2 linked regions of the Homo sapiens genome follow. The protein of the gene in region 2 purifies or fractionates together with the protein of the main gene of each other region. This does not show direct contact. Each region holds a gene or a part of one and is shown on either strand. Other genes may lie near its edges.

What was found. Proteins that work in one complex are often made in the same cells at the same time.
Region 1: the proteins of RFC1 (region 2) and PRIM1 fractionate together in Homo sapiens (co-fractionation; one large-scale study listed by BioGRID). This does not show direct contact.

The regions. Positions count from the first base shown.
Region 1 is NC_000012.12:56,741,431-56,745,823, reverse strand, and holds part of PRIM1 (DNA primase small subunit), read left to right. Parts: intron 1-1,700; coding exon 1,701-1,759; intron 1,760-2,727; coding exon 2,728-2,837; intron 2,838-3,986; coding exon 3,987-4,078; intron 4,079-4,247; coding exon 4,248-4,389; intron 4,390-4,393. UniProt on the Homo sapiens protein: Catalytic subunit of the DNA primase complex and component of the DNA polymerase alpha complex (also known as the alpha DNA polymerase-primase complex - primosome/replisome) which play an essential role in the initiation of DNA synthesis.
Region 2 is NC_000004.12:39,299,581-39,304,867, reverse strand, and holds part of RFC1 (replication factor C subunit 1), read left to right. Parts: coding exon 1-54; intron 55-1,716; coding exon 1,717-1,808; intron 1,809-1,993; coding exon 1,994-2,131; intron 2,132-2,272; coding exon 2,273-2,368; intron 2,369-2,491; coding exon 2,492-2,590; intron 2,591-4,453; coding exon 4,454-4,608; intron 4,609-4,729; coding exon 4,730-4,847; intron 4,848-5,287. UniProt on the Homo sapiens protein: Subunit of the replication factor C (RFC) complex which acts during elongation of primed DNA templates by DNA polymerases delta and epsilon, and is necessary for ATP-dependent loading of proliferating cell nuclear antigen (PCNA) onto primed DNA.

The DNA of each region.
Region 1 (4,393 bases), on a different chromosome or scaffold from region 2:
GGGACTACAGGCTCCTGCCACTGTGCCCAGCTAAATTTTGTATTTTTAGTAAAGACTGGGTTTCGCCATGTTGGCCAGGCTGGCCTAGAACTCCTAGCCTCAGGTGATTCACCCACCTCAGCCTCCCAAAGTGCTGGGATTACAGACATGAGCCACCACACTGGCCTAAAACTTATCTTTAATGGCATTCACATTGCAGAGTAAATGATCTTACCAATAGATCATTTAAAGTCATAGTAGCTACATGTTTTAAGATATTTCATTTTATTTTGCTATAAATATCTTGCTTTGTGGCATATGTAAAATAATAGATAAAATAGATTTATTATATATAAAATAATAGAACATGTTAAAGTTTGGTTTTGGTTTTGGTTTGTTTTTTTGGTTTTTTTTGTTTTGTTTTGTTTTGTTTTGAGACACGGTCTCACCCTGTCACCCAGGCTGGAGTACGGTAACGTGACCACAGCTCACTGCAGCCTTGACCTCCTGGTCTCAAGTGACCCTTCTACCTCAGCCTCCTGAGTAGCTGGGACTAAAGGCATGCGCCACCACGCCCAGCCAATTTTTTAATTTTTGCAGAAACAAGGTCTCACTATATTGCCCAGGGTGTTCTTGAACTCCTAAACTCAAACTATCCTCCCACTTCAGGCTCCCAAAATGCTGAGATTACAGGTGTGAGCCACTACATCCAGCCTACAAATTTTTTTTTTTTTTTTTGAGACGGAGTCTTGCTCTGTTACCCAGGCTGGAGTGCAGTGGCGCTATCTTGGCTCACCACAACCTCCGCGTCCCGGGTTCAAGCAATTCTCCTGTCTCAGCCTCCCAAGTAGCTGGGATTACAGGCACTTGCCACCACACCCGGCTAATTTTTGTATTTAGCCAGGCGTGTTGGCAGGTGGAAACAGGGTTTCATCATATTGGTCAGGCTGGTCTCGAACTCCTGACCTCAGGTGATCCGCCCGCCTCAGCCTCTCAAAGTGCTGGGATTACAAGTGTGAGCCACTGCGTCCAGCCCTAGAAATGTTTTAATTATAATTATGCATCACTTAACAATAAGGATACATCCTGAGAAATACATCACTTTGCAAAAGTCATGGAGTATACTTACACAGACCCAGATGGTATAGCCTACTATACATCTAGGCTATATGGTATAACCTATTGCTCCTAGGCTACAACCTGTACAGCATGTTACTGTACTCAATACTGTAGGCAATTGTAACACAATGATAGGTACTGATGTAGCTAAACATACCTAAACATAGAAAAGTCACAGTAAAAATACAGTATTGCAATCTTATGGGACCCACCATCTTTTTCTTTTTTTTTTGAGATGGAGTCTCGCTCTTGTCACCCTGGCTAGAGTGCAATGATGCGATCTCGGCTCACTGCAACCTCTGCCTCCCGAGTTCAAGCGACTCTCCTGCCTCAGCCTCCCGAGTAGCTAGGATTACAGGCATGCGCCACCATGCCCAGCTAATTTTTTGTATTTTTAATAGAGATGGGATTCAGGCTGGTCTTGAACTCTTGACCTCAGGTGATCCACCCACCTCAGCCTCCCAAAATGCTGGGATTACAGGTGTGAGCCACCGTGCCCACCATCTTATATGCAGTCCATCATGACTAAAATGTCGTTATGCTGCACATGACTGTATTTATATTGTATACCTGAAGTTCTTTTTTAATGATTTATTTTTCAGGGTGGTCAAGACGTTAAAAAGAAAGTTCACCTAAGTGAAAAAATTCACCCTTTTATCAGGTCTGTTGGAAAAGTCTCCAAGCACTTTAAGGTGTCTGATTTACCGGCATGTGCCTTTAGAGTTACCTTGCTATCAATTTTCACTGCTGGGTAGCATTTTATAATAATAATAGCTATGGTTAATTGAGTGCCTATTTTATGCTGCAGTATTCCTAAAAGGTGCTTTACAGATGTTCTCATTGCTCTTCAAAAAAACCCCACAAGAGACTTGATGGTATCTCCATTTATAGATAAGGAAAATGAGTTTTAGAGAGATTTTATAATGAGCTTGGCATCACACGACAAGTTAGTTGTTAAATTTAGGATTCATGCCCTGGTCTGCCTGACTGTAAAGCCTACTCCAATGCTTTTTCCACTGAATTCACTACTTCTCTAGGATAGTGGAAAAAGCCTTATATTAGGAGTAAAAATTCCTATTCTGCCACTTACTATGATCTTGATAAAATATTGACAAAATATTGCTGCCTCCATTTCCTTATCTCTATGATGGGGAGAACAGCATGCACTCTACCTGTCTCACAGTTGTATCAATGATTAAGTGAAAGAGTAAATGTGATGCATATTTGTAAACTGCAAACATTATATGATTGTTGAGATATTAATACAAGCAATTCACAGTGGAAAGTGTAGGCTGCATCCCACATTCTACTACTGATGTATTATGGTGTCCTGGGTTGGTTACTTTCTACCCTTATTGCGTATATTAACCTTCTAAGTTGTGAGGTTTAAAAAGTAAACATTTCTTGTATACCCATTCTGTGCCAGGTTCTATGTCAGGTTCTTTTCCCTTAAAAGTGTCTCATTTAATTATCATAACCCTGCACAGGGTAGTATTCCCATTTTACCTAGTTAAGTTCTGAAAATGTCATGAAAATAAGCAGTAGTTTTCCCCACAATGGCAGCAATACCTATGTGGCATATGTGTTACTGATAGTGTTGGGACTCTGTTGTTATTGTTGTTCTTACAGAAAATCTATAAACATAATAAAAAAATACTTTGAAGAATATGCCTTGGTTAATCAAGATATTCTCGAAAATAAAGAAAGCTGGGATAAGATTTTAGCCCTTGTTCCTGAAAATATCCTTTCCCGTGATCATTTCTGTGTGAGCTAGTTGTTTTGATCTGTGATATTATAAATGTTAGACATGTCTGCTTGTAAGTTCTCATATACTTATAAGTTTAATCTTTTTTACACAAAATATCTCCTGTATTTCTGGATTTTAGTATCTCTGGTCTGGAACATAATAAAAAATGGGGCCATGTTGCAAATCAGTTTTCTCATTTTGGAAGTTGGTCCTAGAATTAACAGCTAAAGAATGGTGAATTACATAGTCAAAATACATGCAGACCAGGGAAAACTTTACATCATACCTTATAGTTATTTTGGCATTCTTTCTGTTATATCATCACTGTATTTTTACAGGGGAAGATTTCAATGATACAACTGGTGTTGGTTTGGTTTGGGGTTTTTTTGTTGTTGTTGTTGTTTTTAAGACGGAGTCTTATACTGTGTTGCCCAGGCTGGAGTGTGCAGTGGTGTGATCTTGGCTTACTGCAACCTCCGCCTCCCGGGTTCAAACAATTCTCCTGCCTCAGCCTCCCAAATAGCTGGGACTGCAGGCACACGCCACCACGCCCAGCTAATTTTTGTGTTTTTATAGAGACGGGGTCTCACCATGTCAGCCAAGCTGGTCTCAAATGATCCACCCACCTCAGCCTCCCAAAATATTGGGAATACAGGCATGAGCCACTGTGCCCGGCCGGATACAGCTGTTGAGTTTAACATTTGTGGGGTGGGTTGTTTTGTTGTTGAGATGGAGTCTCACTCTGTTGCCCAGGCTGTAGCACAGTGGCACAATCTCAGCTCACTGCAACCTTCACCTTGCAGATTTAAGCAATTTTCCTGCCTCAGCCTCCAGAGTAGCTAGGATTACAGATGTGCACCACCATGCCCTGCTGATTTTTCTATTTTTAGTAGAGATGGGGTTTCACCATGTTGGCCAGGCTGGTCTCGATCTCCTGACCTCACGTGATCCACCCACCTCTGCCTCCCAAAGTGCTGGGAGTACAGGCATGAGCCACCACGCCCAGTCAACATTTATATTTCAAGAAATGTTAATAACTACTTTCTGAATATTTGTAAGACACCCTTGTGGTAATACATACTTAAAACTAAATTGTTCATTGATGTTCCCTAAATGAGTCTGTTCCTTAATGACCCATCACCAATTCATGATGAACTTCAACAAAGCTTCCAAAAGTCTCACAATTCACTTCAGCGTTGGGAGCACTTGAAGAAAGTAGCCAGCAGATATCAGGTATATGCCACTGAAATCTGTATTACAGATATAATAATGCAATTCTTAATTAAATTGATTGCTTTGCCTAGTCAGTTAAAGATGGTTGAAGATCGTTTTTTTAACTTTCTTTAAAGAAATCTTCAACAGTTCCTACTGATCCTCATGTTGGCCTTGTATCTGCTTTTAGAATAACATCAAAAATGACAAATATGGACCCTGGCTGGAGTGGGAGATTATGCTCCAGTACTGTTTTCCACGGCTGGATATCAATGTCAGCAAAGGAATCAATCATCTACTGAAGAGCCCTTTTAGTGTTCATCCTAAAACAGGTAC
Region 2 (5,287 bases):
AGGCGATTGTTGCTGAGTCACTGAACAATACCAGCATCAAAGGCTTTTATTCAAGTATGTGGCTTTTTGACCTCCTGTTGTTGTTATATAAGAAAAATATGTTCATTTCAATGTTCAGTAACCAGTATTGAACACAGGTTGTGTGCCAAGCACCCTACTAAATTCTGGGGCTAACAAGAGAATAAGAAAGCCGTCTGACATCACTCTTATGGGGCAGTACTTACCCTTTCGTAGGTCTTAGAGGTTTCTAAGAATGTGATAAAAATGTGTACATGCACATATTCGTTTTTCATGATTTTAGAGGATTCACAGGTGAATCCTGTAAAGAGAGAAAGAAAATAAAAAACCATGTGTAATGCAGTGTGACTTATTACCTCATTACCTTATTAACCTCACTCTGCATGTATGTAATAAAGTATGTAATACAGAGTGAGGTAATAAGGCCAGCAGATGAAGAAGTAATTATGCTTGGGGCATTGAGTTAAAGGGGTGATAATTGTTTTGAAAGACCTCAAAGAATGAGAAAGAAAACTATTTGGAGGTGGAAGAGGTCACTGCAGGCAAAGGTAGTAAAAGAGAAGACAGTGTGCAAATGCCCACTGTGTTTCAGGTTGTAGCTAGTGGTCCTCTATGGCCAGAGTTCATGGAAAATAAGATGCTCAAGTTAAGGACCGCACAGTGCCTATTTAGAGTCTATGGTGTGTTGTTTTGTCACCTGAATTCTTGGTGCCTTCACATTGTTCAAAATAATTTGCTCAGGAAATGTCACTCTTAGACGTGGCTGGTGGGAGGGTAGATTGGTACAACTCTGGAGAGAGTCCAGCAATATTTCTCAAATTACACATACCGTCTAGCCCAGAAATTCCAATTGCTGGAATTTAGCTATTATTTTATATGTGCAAAGTGGCATATATATGCCATATAGATAAGGATAGTCATTTAGTATGACATAATAGAAAAAAGCTTGGAAGCATCCTATATATTTCATTAATGGTGATTAAGTAAAGTGTGTGATACAAGTGTAGAATGGAGTATTAAATTGCCTTAAAAAATGAAGTGTTCTGTATCTGTAAGATAAAGAATGAATCACCAAAATACATAAAATGACAAAACTGGCTGGGCATGTTGGCTCACGCCTGTAATCCCAGCACTTTGGGAGGCTGAGGCGGACAGATCACCTGAGGTCAGGAGTTTGAGACCAGCCTGGTCAACATGGTGAAACACCGTCTCTACTAAAAATACAAAAATTAGCTGGGTGTGGTGGCGTGCGCCTGTAATCTCAGCTACTTGGGAGGCTGAGGCAAAAGAATTGCTTGAACCCGGGAGGCGGAGGTTGCAGTGAGCCAATATCGTGCCATTGCACTCCAGCTTGGGCAACGAGTGAAACTCTGTCTCAAAAAAAAAAAAATTCAAAACTCAGTTGTATATTTTTATGCACATATGTGTACAATATCTCTTAAAGGACATATAAGAGACTGTTGTTTGCCTCTGGGAAGGGAATTGGGGTCTGCAGGGGAAGGGGTGGCAGGGAGAGTTTCTCTTCTCTGCATATTCTTTTTTTTTTTTTTTCTTTAACAACACTCTGTAGTCCAGTGCTGCATATTCTTGTAGCTTTTGAAGTTTAATATCTGTTACATAATTTTCTACAGAGCAGCAGTTTTTGAGCAATTGTTATTTTGTTTTTGTCTCATCCCATTGCTCCTCAACCTGGGTCAGATGGAGCAGCCTCTTCAGTAAGCACGAAACATGCTCTCATCATGGATGAAGTAGATGGCATGGCAGGCAATGAGGATAGGGGAGGAATTCAGGTAATTCAAGTGCTGTATTTTTGCAGTTTCACTGTTGATAATTTAGATTGTTAGAACATTGTCATTCTCTCATACTTAGGGCAGTTAAGGCATGTTGCTGAGGAGATTTTTAGAACCTAAAATAGCTTGTGTGGTATTTGTCATTTTTAAAATAATTATTTTTGTGTTGCAAACTTGCCTTTCAGGAATTAATTGGCCTGATAAAACATACTAAAATTCCCATTATTTGTATGTGCAATGATAGAAATCATCCCAAGATTCGCTCTCTGGTTCATTATTGTTTTGATCTTCGTTTTCAAAGACCTCGGGTTGAACAGATTAAGGTATGATGATTGAAATTTTTTTTCCATCACACTAGCCTATTTATTTAAGGGTCAATTTTTAAAAGTACCTGATAAATATTTTTAAAATACCTGATTATATGAGTTAAAAATCATTGAGGACTCCTCCCTTGTCAATTTCAGGGTGCTATGATGTCTATTGCATTTAAAGAAGGTTTAAAGATTCCCCCTCCAGCTATGAATGAAATAATTTTGGGAGCCAATCAAGATATCAGACAGGTAAATTAAATATATATCATGTAACAGTTGTTGATTATTTTTAACTAATGCTTTCAACCTTGTAGGGATGGGGAGCAACAGGATTTTCCTATCTTGACGTTGTCTTATTTGTGATTCTTTTAGGTTTTACATAATCTGAGTATGTGGTGTGCACGAAGTAAAGCATTAACCTATGACCAGGCCAAAGCTGATTCTCACAGAGCCAAAAAGGATATCAAAATGGTAAAATAAATGTCCATGTCTTAGTTACTTTCCTAAGCCAAAACACTTCTTGTTCTGTAGGTAGCTTGATAGAAGTAGTTATTATAGTTCCTTGGTATGCCTGTGGAATCCAGGGATATATAGTAGGAAGTATAGACAGCTGCTGAAAGTGTTTCTAATTCAAATGATTTTTTTCTCAAAGATTGTCAATGTCAATTATAAATTTTGAGAAAGGGATAAATTTTAAATTATACTTATGCTTCAACAATTATAAAATGGCTTTTCCAGAGTTCTTTATGTTTGGCTTTCGTGTTTGGAATGGTTTTGCACTGTTCAGAATAATCCATGTCAAATGGTTTAGTTTAATGACCTCTCTGAAACTAGAGGTATGTATCAGTTTCCTCTGTGTTGTATTTTACCTAGTTGCTAATCAGAATTTATAGTTAGAGCAATGATTAAGCAGGTTCTAAAAAAGTTAATACACTTTCTTATTTATTTAAATTTTCAAAATTTTTGGTAGAGACAGGGTCTCGCTATGTTTCCCCGACTGGTCTTGAATTCCTGGCCTCAAGTGATCCTCCTGCTGTGGCCCCCAAGGTGCCGGGATTATAGGTGTGAGCCACCACGTCTGGCCTATACGCTTTATTTTTTAGAGCAGTTGAGGCTCAGGAGTTTGAGACCAGCCTGGCCAACATGGTGATCCATGCCTGGCCTATGGATTAAAAATGGAGTGGAAGGTACAGAGAGTTCTCACATACTTCATGTCCCCCTCACACGCACAGCCTCTCCCACTGCCAACATCCCCCACCACAGTGGTATATCTGTTACAATCGATGAACCTACAGTGATACCTCATTATCACCCAGAGTCCGTAGTTGACATTAGCATTCCCTCTTGGTGTTGTACGTTGTGTGGTTTTGACAAATGACATGTATTCACCATTGTAGTATCATACAGAATAGTTTCACTGTCCTGAACATCCTCTGTGCTCTACCTGTTCATTCTTCCTTTCCGCTTTCCTCCCTACAACCCCTGGCAGCCACTGATCCTTTCACTGTGTCCATAGTTTTGCCTTTTCCAGAATGTGGTATAGTTGGAATCATGTAGTATGTGGACTTTTCCAGTTGGCTTTTTTCACGTAGTAATGGCATATAAGGTTCTTCCATAACTTTTTTGTTTTTGTTTTTGTTTTTTTTGGTTTTTTTTTTTTCGGAGTCTTGCTTTGTCACCCAGGCTGGAGTACAGTGGTGTGATCTTGGCACACTGTAGCCTCTGCCTCCCGGGTTCATGTGATTCTCTTGCCTCAGGCTTCTGAGTAGCTCGGGTTACAGGCACCTGCCACCACACCTGGCCAATTTTTTATTTTTAGTAGAGACGAGGTTTTACTATGTTGGCCAGGCTGGTCTCGAACTCCTGACCTCAAGTGATCCGCCCACCTCAGCCTCCCAAAGTGCTCGGATTACAGGGGTGAGCCACCATGCCCTGCCCCCCCATGTCTTTTCATGGCTTGATAGCTCACTTCTTTTTAATGTTGAATAATATTACATTGTGTGAATGTACCACAGTTAAATTGTTTATTTACCTACTAAAAGGACATCTTGGTTGCTTACAACTTTTGGTAATTATAAATAAAACTGCTTGTAAACATCCTGTGCAGATTTTTGTGTGAACATAGTTTCATTTGGGTGAATACCAAGAAGCGTGGTTGCTGGATCGCGTGGTAAGAGTATGTTTAATTTTGTAAGAAACTACCAAACGGTACAGTTTTGCATTCCCACCAGCAATGAATGGAATTCCTCTTGTTCCATATCCTCGTTAGCATTTGGTGATGTTACCGTTTTGAATTTTGGCCATTCTAATAGGTGTGTCCCTCTCTTTTTTCAGGGCCCATTTGATGTTGCCCGGAAAGTGTTTGCAGCTGGAGAGGAGACTGCTCACATGTCACTTGTGGACAAGTCAGATCTCTTTTTTCATGATTATTCAATAGCACCCCTCTTCGTCCAGGAAAATTACATACACGTGAAGCCTGTAGCAGCAGGGTGAGTGTCCAGAGCTGGTGAGAGGTGTGCTTAGTATCCAGCACTGCGAAGGCTAAATACCCGTGAAGAAGGGACCTGGGGTGTGGAGAGTGGGATAATCCAGACTGGTTCTTTCCTGCAGGGGTGACATGAAAAAGCACCTGATGCTTTTAAGCAGAGCAGCAGACAGCATATGCGATGGTGACCTAGTGGACAGCCAGATCCGGAGTAAGCAAAACTGGAGTCTTCTGCCTGCGCAGGTGAGCAGAGGGCTCTCCCTAACATGCAGGCTCTGCTTTTACTAAGAGAACTAAATAGCTTTTAGCTGCTGTACTTATTTTATTTTATTTTGTTTACTTTATTTTTGAGATCGAGTCTCGCTCTGTTGCCCGGGCTGGAGTGTAGTGGTATGATCTCGGCTCACTGGAGCCTCTGCCTCCCGGGTTCAAGAGATTCTCCTGCCTCAGCCTCCTGAGTAGCTGGGACTACAGGTGCCCGCCACCATACCCAGCTAATCCTGTAGTTATTTTAAATACCAGATAAATGTTATGGCTCTTGTGGCAAAAATATAGTCTGTTACAGATTATAATACTCTGTGGTAACTATCGTCTGTTTCCTAATCTGGCCTTATTTTTCTTTTTTCTTTCTTTCTTTTTTTTTTTTTTTTTTTGAGACAGTGTTGCTGTGTTGCCCAGGCTGG